2 linked regions of the Homo sapiens genome follow. The protein of the gene in region 1 binds, or shares a complex with, the protein of each later gene. Each region holds a gene or a part of one and is shown in the gene's direction. Other genes may lie near its edges.

Region 1 (3,824 bases):
TAAGAAAAATAACTGTTGCTTGAAAAAAATTATTCCAAGTAGCCATTTGGTTTGTATCAGCAGAAACTGAACCTCCATGAGTTTAGTGTTTATCAAGTTGGAATCATTAGCTCAAGTCAGTGAATGAGATATGCAACGCATTTCACAGTGACTGTTTCCCAAGTCCTGGCAATGCCTATTCTCCCACAGTCCACCAGATGATGAAACATTTCCGGGACCAGGATGCCCCTTCTACGTGGTTTTCCCTTTTCATTTTTTTTTTTTTTTTTGCTGGATTAACTATTACTGTATTATTTCCTCTTCTCCCCTCTTCTGTGGCCTTCCATTTTAATTATTCATAAATCCTTTCAGAATATTCTCAGGGAGATCCATAAGGGGAAGTTCTGGAGATGTAAAATCCAAGGGAGGAAGACTGGGGATTGGAATGTCCTTGGCTTTCCCGGCATTTGCTGCAAACTTCTGCCAGGTTGAGGAGGCTGTAGCAGTTTCTGAATGTGGCGGCAAGCTCCGTAATTCTGACGTTTCTACAAAATCAGCATCTACATCCAGCTCCTTTTCTACTGGACCTTTTTAGAAGTCTGGCCTTTTCAGCCTTTAGTTATTTTCTTTCCTTAATCTTTCATTCTCAGCCACAAGGAATTCCACACGTCTCTTCAAATCTGCAATTTTGGTTGCCTATTCCTCTATAATTGTTTTATCATCTTCTGGGGCTTTGCTTCCAATACATGGCTCTGCTGTCTCACTCTTTTGCTGAAGTAAATATAGTAGTGTGTCTGGATCCCTGTCAAAGATCCCCTGAATCTCAAGCAGGCGTTTCTCTGAAGAAGGGCTGTACTTCTGAGAAAGGGGGCTCTGGCCCTCCGCATCCTCGGCAGAGAGTTTGTGAGATGCCTGAAGATGGGCAGCTACATCCTTGTCTGTGTTCTGCTAGGCTTTCAATCTTTCCTCACGCTGGGCCCTTTTCCATCTCTCTTGGATGAGGAGGAGCTGTTTCATGTGGCTATCCCTTTGCAATTCCAGTGAAAGACGAGCCTGCTCAGATTGTGTCAGCTTCATGGCTTCAGAAAGATATGCCGCAGCCTTTTTGTGACAAGAAATCGCCTCTTCGTATTTGCCTGCAGCTAATAAACGGTCGGCTCGTCTGCTCTGCTGATGAGCCAGGTTGAGGGGTCCTTCCATTACTTCCATAGACAGCAGCAGCCTTAGGAAGGGGAGCGGTGGGGCCAGGGAACATGGAGGGGATCGCAGGGGAGCGCGACGCAGCCGCGTCCTCTCTGGGCGCAGAGGGAGCAACAATCTCTCCACTTCCTCCTCAGGCCCCGCGCCACGGGCCCGCCCCCTGCGCCGCCGCCGCGACCCCGCACGGCGCCATGACGTCACACGCGCTGGTGTTTTTAAAATTATTTCCAAATTATTGAAGCTTTTCTTGATATCTTGTTATTGATTTGTAATTCCTTTTGGGTCTTTTATATAACTTTTCTTTCTCTGCTGAGACTTTCTATCTCTCCATTCATTATGAATATAGTTTCCTTTATTTCCTTGGGAACAGGTATAATAGTTAGTTACATTTTGATACATATTTACAAATTCCAACATGTGGCCCCTCTCACAGGCAGCTGCTTGATTGTCTTTTCTTTTGAGTATGGGTCATGTTTTCCTATTTCTTTATATGCTGAGTAATTTTGGATTGTGTCCTAAACATTGTTATGTTGTGTAGACTCTGGATTTTGTTTCATTTTTCTGAAAAGTGTTGATTGGTTATTTGGTGTTTGTCTTAACAAGCATTTAAGTTTTATAAATAAAAAATATAATTCTAAGCCTCACAACTAACTGAACGGACTCCTCAGCCAAGGAAGGGCATTCTAAAGAAATATTAGTTCAGGCCATGATGGGAATAGGTAGTCAGACATGCCTCATTATACTCTCCTCCTTTTGTAATTCAGCACAGCTGACCAGTATTAACATTAAAGCAGCCCTTAAGCCTGATAGAATAGACTCTTTGTAGCAATAAGATACCAACATGACAGATAGGAATATTTTGAAATGGTCTTGGAAAGCTATCTCTTGTGGGGAAAATACACTCTGTAGAGAATCCCCTTCCCATTCCAGGTCTTTTCTCTGATCCAGGAGAGAATTAACTAAGAGTCTGGCATCTTTTTTGGGTTTTTTGTTTGTTTTTGAAACATGGTTTTTCTCTGTCACCTAGGTTGGAGTGCAGTGGCATGATCACAGCTCTCTGCAGTCTCGCCCTCCTGGGCTCAAGCAATCTTTCCCCACCCCCCGGTTTCCTGAGTAGCTGGGACTATAGGCATGCGCCACCACACCCGGGTAATTTTTAAATTTTTTGTAGAGACAGGGGTGTCACTATATTGCCTGGGATGGTCTCAAACTCCTGGGGTCAAGCAATCCTCTCCCTTTGGCCTTTCCAAAGTGCTAGGATTACAGGTGTTAGCCACTGTACCCAGCCACCACATGGCTTTAAACTCCATGTCTCTATCATTTCAGATGCTCTAAACGTCCCTGCCATCTGGTCCAGATGGAGTCCTCAGGCAACCCAGAGAGCACCACCTTTTTTTACTATGACCTTCAGAGCCAGCCGTGTGAGAACCAGGCCTGGGTCTTTGCTACCCTCGCCACCACTGTCCTATACTGCCTGGTGTTTCTCCTCAGCCTAGTGGGCAACAGCCTGGTCCTGTGGGTCCTGGTGAAGTATGAGAGCCTGGAGTCCCTCACCAACATCTTCATCCTCAACCTGTGCCTCTCAGACCTGGTGTTCGCCTGCTTGTTGCCTGTGTGGATCTCCCCATACCACTGGGGCTGGGTGCTGGGAGACTTCCTCTGCAAACTCCTCAATATGATCTTCTCCATCAGCCTCTACAGCAGCATCTTCTTCCTGACCATCATGACCATCCACCGCTACCTGTCGGTAGTGAGCCCCCTCTCCACCCTGCGCGTCCCCACCCTCCGCTGCCGGGTGCTGGTGACCATGGCTGTGTGGGTAGCCAGCATCCTGTCCTCCATCCTCGACACCATCTTCCACAAGGTGCTTTCTTCGGGCTGTGATTATTCCGAACTCACGTGGTACCTCACCTCCGTCTACCAGCACAACCTCTTCTTCCTGCTGTCCCTGGGGATTATCCTGTTCTGCTACGTGGAGATCCTCAGGACCCTGTTCCGCTCACGCTCCAAGCGGCGCCACCGCACGGTCAAGCTCATCTTCGCCATCGTGGTGGCCTACTTCCTCAGCTGGGGTCCCTACAACTTCACCCTGTTTCTGCAGACGCTGTTTCGGACCCAGATCATCCGGAGCTGCGAGGCCAAACAGCAGCTAGAATACGCCCTGCTCATCTGCCGCAACCTCGCCTTCTCCCACTGCTGCTTTAACCCGGTGCTCTATGTCTTCGTGGGGGTCAAGTTCCGCACACACCTGAAACATGTTCTCCGGCAGTTCTGGTTCTGCCGGCTGCAGGCACCCAGCCCAGCCTCGATCCCCCACTCCCCTGGTGCCTTCGCCTATGAGGGCGCCTCCTTCTACTGAGGGGCCTGTGGCGGTGCAGGCGCAGGTGCAGGTGGACAGGGACTGGAATGGGGGTCATGGAGAAGCGGGCCTGGAAGGAGCATTGCAGAACACAGCAGGGTGGAGACGTCTCCTCCGCTGCAGGCGTGCAGTGAAGGTCATTCATTACACCAGTGGGTCCCGCCAGCCTCTCATCTGCGGGAAAGTGGCTTCCTACCTGGGAATTTTATACTGCCATCCAAAAAAACATTTCTTGAACTCTGAGTTCATCTTGCACGCTCCTTCATTTAGACATGTGTTTCTAATC
Region 2 (2,750 bases), on another chromosome or scaffold:
TGGGTACCTTACTAATGCTCTCATTTAGTCATCAGAGCAGTCCTGCAATATTGGTAAAATTTCCATTTTCTATATAAGGAAACACATTTAAGAGAGGTTAGTATTTTGTGCAATGTTGGCTATCTAGGAAGTGGCAGAGCTGGGTGTAAAATCTAGAGTTAAGACCTTTGTTAGCCATATCTTCAAAATCCAGTGTCATTTCTTAGCCATATCTTCAAAATCCAGTGTCATTTCTTAGCCATATCTTCAAAATCCAGTGTCATTTCTTAGCCATATCTTCAAAATCCAATGGCATAAAGAAGTTTTTCACAAGGGTGCCACATGGTGTAGTGCAGCATGTCCAACAGCATTGCCTGAACAGATGTTAATAAGTATGCATGATGCACATTAGCATGTCAATGGCTGTGAAAAGCCAGTGCAGTAAAGAAGTAAAGAGCTCTCTGTGTGTTAACCCTCCATTTCACAAACATAGGAACTGCACAGACACAGCAGCCACTACCCAGGTGTGAATGCAGAGCACTTAAAACGTAGCTAGTCCAAAGTGAGTTGGCCTATTAGTGTAAAATACAAGAGTTCAGATACACAGAATTTAAAAATTACATGTTGAACTGATTTGTGATATATTGGGTTATATAATTTTAAAATTCTACTTTTTTTTACATTTTTAATGTGGTTTTGGAAAATAGGTACTCATGTGTCTTTGCATTATATTTGTATTTGGGAAATGAAATGCTTTATTTTTCTTCCACAACAACTCTATTTGCATTGCATGGAAATGTTCCCAAGTTTTAGAGAAACACATACAAAAACTAAAAAGGATAGAATGCTAAAATTTGAATGTGGAAGATGTGGGTCTTGGTGTCTTGAATAAATCACACCTTCAGTGACTTTCTTGGGAAATGGTGGGCCTCAGTAAAGACTTGGACTATTCCAGTTTTAAATGCTATCGTTTGGTTTGGTGTAATATAGCCTTTCCTGTGGGGGGAAAACCCATCTCATTTTCACTTTAAATATGTCAGCTATAATAAAAGAGAGACATACACATTTTAAGATCTATACTCTAAAACAGGGTTTTGAAATTAGCAGCTCTCTTTATTTTTAGTTCCAATACATGGAGGGGGAGTTGACCCTTCAAGATACTGGAAAATTATTAAATCCAGTTTACAGACTCATCTCTTTAGTCTGCAGCCAAATCAAAAGATTAGTGGGGTTTTTTTTAATGTTGTTATTGTGTTGTGTTTTGTTTTTTTAATATGTTTCAATTCCCCTAGCCAAATTCCTTTCTTTCTCCACACCTCCCACAGGACTGGGCTGAGCACAGTCATGCATTAAAAAAGCTTCTGAACTTATTTTGGAAAGAGTAGCTCCCTGGAGTGTGGAGGAGGACAGGAATTTGCTATCTGCAGGACTTAAATCAGGATAGAGTATCAAATATTCCAAGGCCTTACATGCATGTTTTGTTTTTTGATAAAGACAGAAGATTGCAAATGGTTTGCTCTTTAACAGTCAATAAAATCATATCTACTAATCAATACATTTGAAGTTTACTAGATTCTCAAACTTTCCATAAGATTTGAGTTCATTAGTTTAATGGGATCGATCTGAGAAAAATTAGATTTATGTGCAGATTTTAGCTACCCTTGTCCTTGGAATGTGTATGCACACACACACACATCTGTGAGAATGATTATTTTCTACTTGATACAGTGTGCATCAAATAAAAGTTTACTATATTGGAATATGGGAATAAATTCATTTATAATTAGTTGAAATTGTCCAGACACATATTTTAGAAAAGTATGTTATTTTTGTTTTAAGTTTGGAAGAACCTGAATGATTAAACCTGATTTAAGTCCCTCTAACAATTATGAAGAAAAAAAAAGACTAGATTTTATATCAACTTAATTGTCTTTTGGTTTAAAATTATGTATCCAATAAAGACATTTAAAAAGTAAATTTATGTCCATATTATTTTTAATAATCCAGCCTTTGAAAAAAATCATTGGCCGGGCACGGTGGCTCAAGCCTGTAATCCCAGCACTTTGGGAGGCCGAGGCAGGCGGATCACGAGGTCAGGAGATCGAGACCATCCTGGCTAACACAGTGAAACCCCATCTCTACTAAAAATACAAAAAAAAATTAGCTGGGCATAGTGATGGGCGCCTGTAGTCCCAGCTACTCGGGAGGCTGAGGCAGGAGAATGGAGTGAACCCAGGAAGCTGAGTTTGCAGTAAGCCAAGATTGTACCACTGCACTCCAGCCTGGACGACAGAGCAAGACTCCATCTCAAAAAAAAAAAAAAATCATTTTTTAATCACATCATGTTCCTATTTATACACATCATTAAGGTAATTCTATTTTTATCTCTTGTATTAAGTTGGTTGAATGCACTTTATTTAAATACATTATGGTTCACATGGAAAGCAGAGCTTTACATGGAAGAAAAGCAGCATCAATCCTACCTAATTTCTTGGGATCCAAGTTTTTTTTAGGACTGTGATTTTTCTTGGCATTAAGTATGTGGATAATCAAAATCAAGGATTATTCTGTTTACTAACACATATTTGACTGGCAATCTCAGGCCAGGGCTGTTTTAAACACGACTTATCTCAAATTTAGCGAAAGAGTTCACTTAAGTCATATAAACGCTTCATCTTTTCTAATTAAGTGTTATCTCTTTTTTCCATGAACCTTTGGCAAAAATGTCCTTTGTGTTTAGCTACTGTCAAGGACAGTTTGGAAGCATTTGA

What was found.
Region 2: the proteins of XCR1 (region 1) and GNAI1 are in contact, whole or in part, in a cryo-EM structure (PDB 9AST), measured with the Homo sapiens proteins. Residues at the interface, in NP_001019815.1 of Homo sapiens: Glu63 (codon at 2,723), Thr66 (codon at 2,732), Arg127 (codon at 2,915), Ser130 (codon at 2,924), Val131 (codon at 2,927), Pro134 (codon at 2,936), Leu135 (codon at 2,939), Leu138 (codon at 2,948), Val140 (codon at 2,954), Arg146 (codon at 2,972), Tyr205 (codon at 3,149), Leu212 (codon at 3,170), Ser215 (codon at 3,179), Ser217 (codon at 3,185), Lys218 (codon at 3,188), Arg219 (codon at 3,191), Arg222 (codon at 3,200), Thr223 (codon at 3,203), Leu226 (codon at 3,212), Ile227 (codon at 3,215), Val290 (codon at 3,404), Gly291 (codon at 3,407), Val292 (codon at 3,410), Lys293 (codon at 3,413), Phe294 (codon at 3,416); in NP_002060.4 of Homo sapiens: Glu28, Ala31, Arg32, Leu194, Asp315, Phe336, Thr340, Asp341, Ile343, Ile344, Lys345, Asn347, Leu348, Lys349, Asp350, Cys351, Gly352, Leu353, Phe354.

Annotation. Positions count from the first base shown.
Region 1 is NC_000003.12:46,020,660-46,024,483, reverse strand, and holds part of XCR1 (chemokine XC receptor 1), read left to right. Parts: intron 1-2,206; exon of another isoform or gene 2,207-2,328; intron 2,329-2,505; 5' UTR 2,506-2,536; coding exon 2,537-3,538; 3' UTR 3,539-3,824. UniProt on the Homo sapiens protein: Receptor for chemokines SCYC1 and SCYC2. Subsequently transduces a signal by increasing the intracellular calcium ions level. Receptor for XCL1/Lymphotactin.
Region 2 is NC_000007.14:80,224,226-80,226,975, forward strand, and holds the end of GNAI1 (guanine nucleotide-binding protein G(i) subunit alpha-1), read left to right. Parts: 3' UTR 1-1,956; downstream 1,957-2,750. UniProt on the Homo sapiens protein: Guanine nucleotide-binding proteins (G proteins) function as transducers downstream of G protein-coupled receptors (GPCRs) in numerous signaling cascades.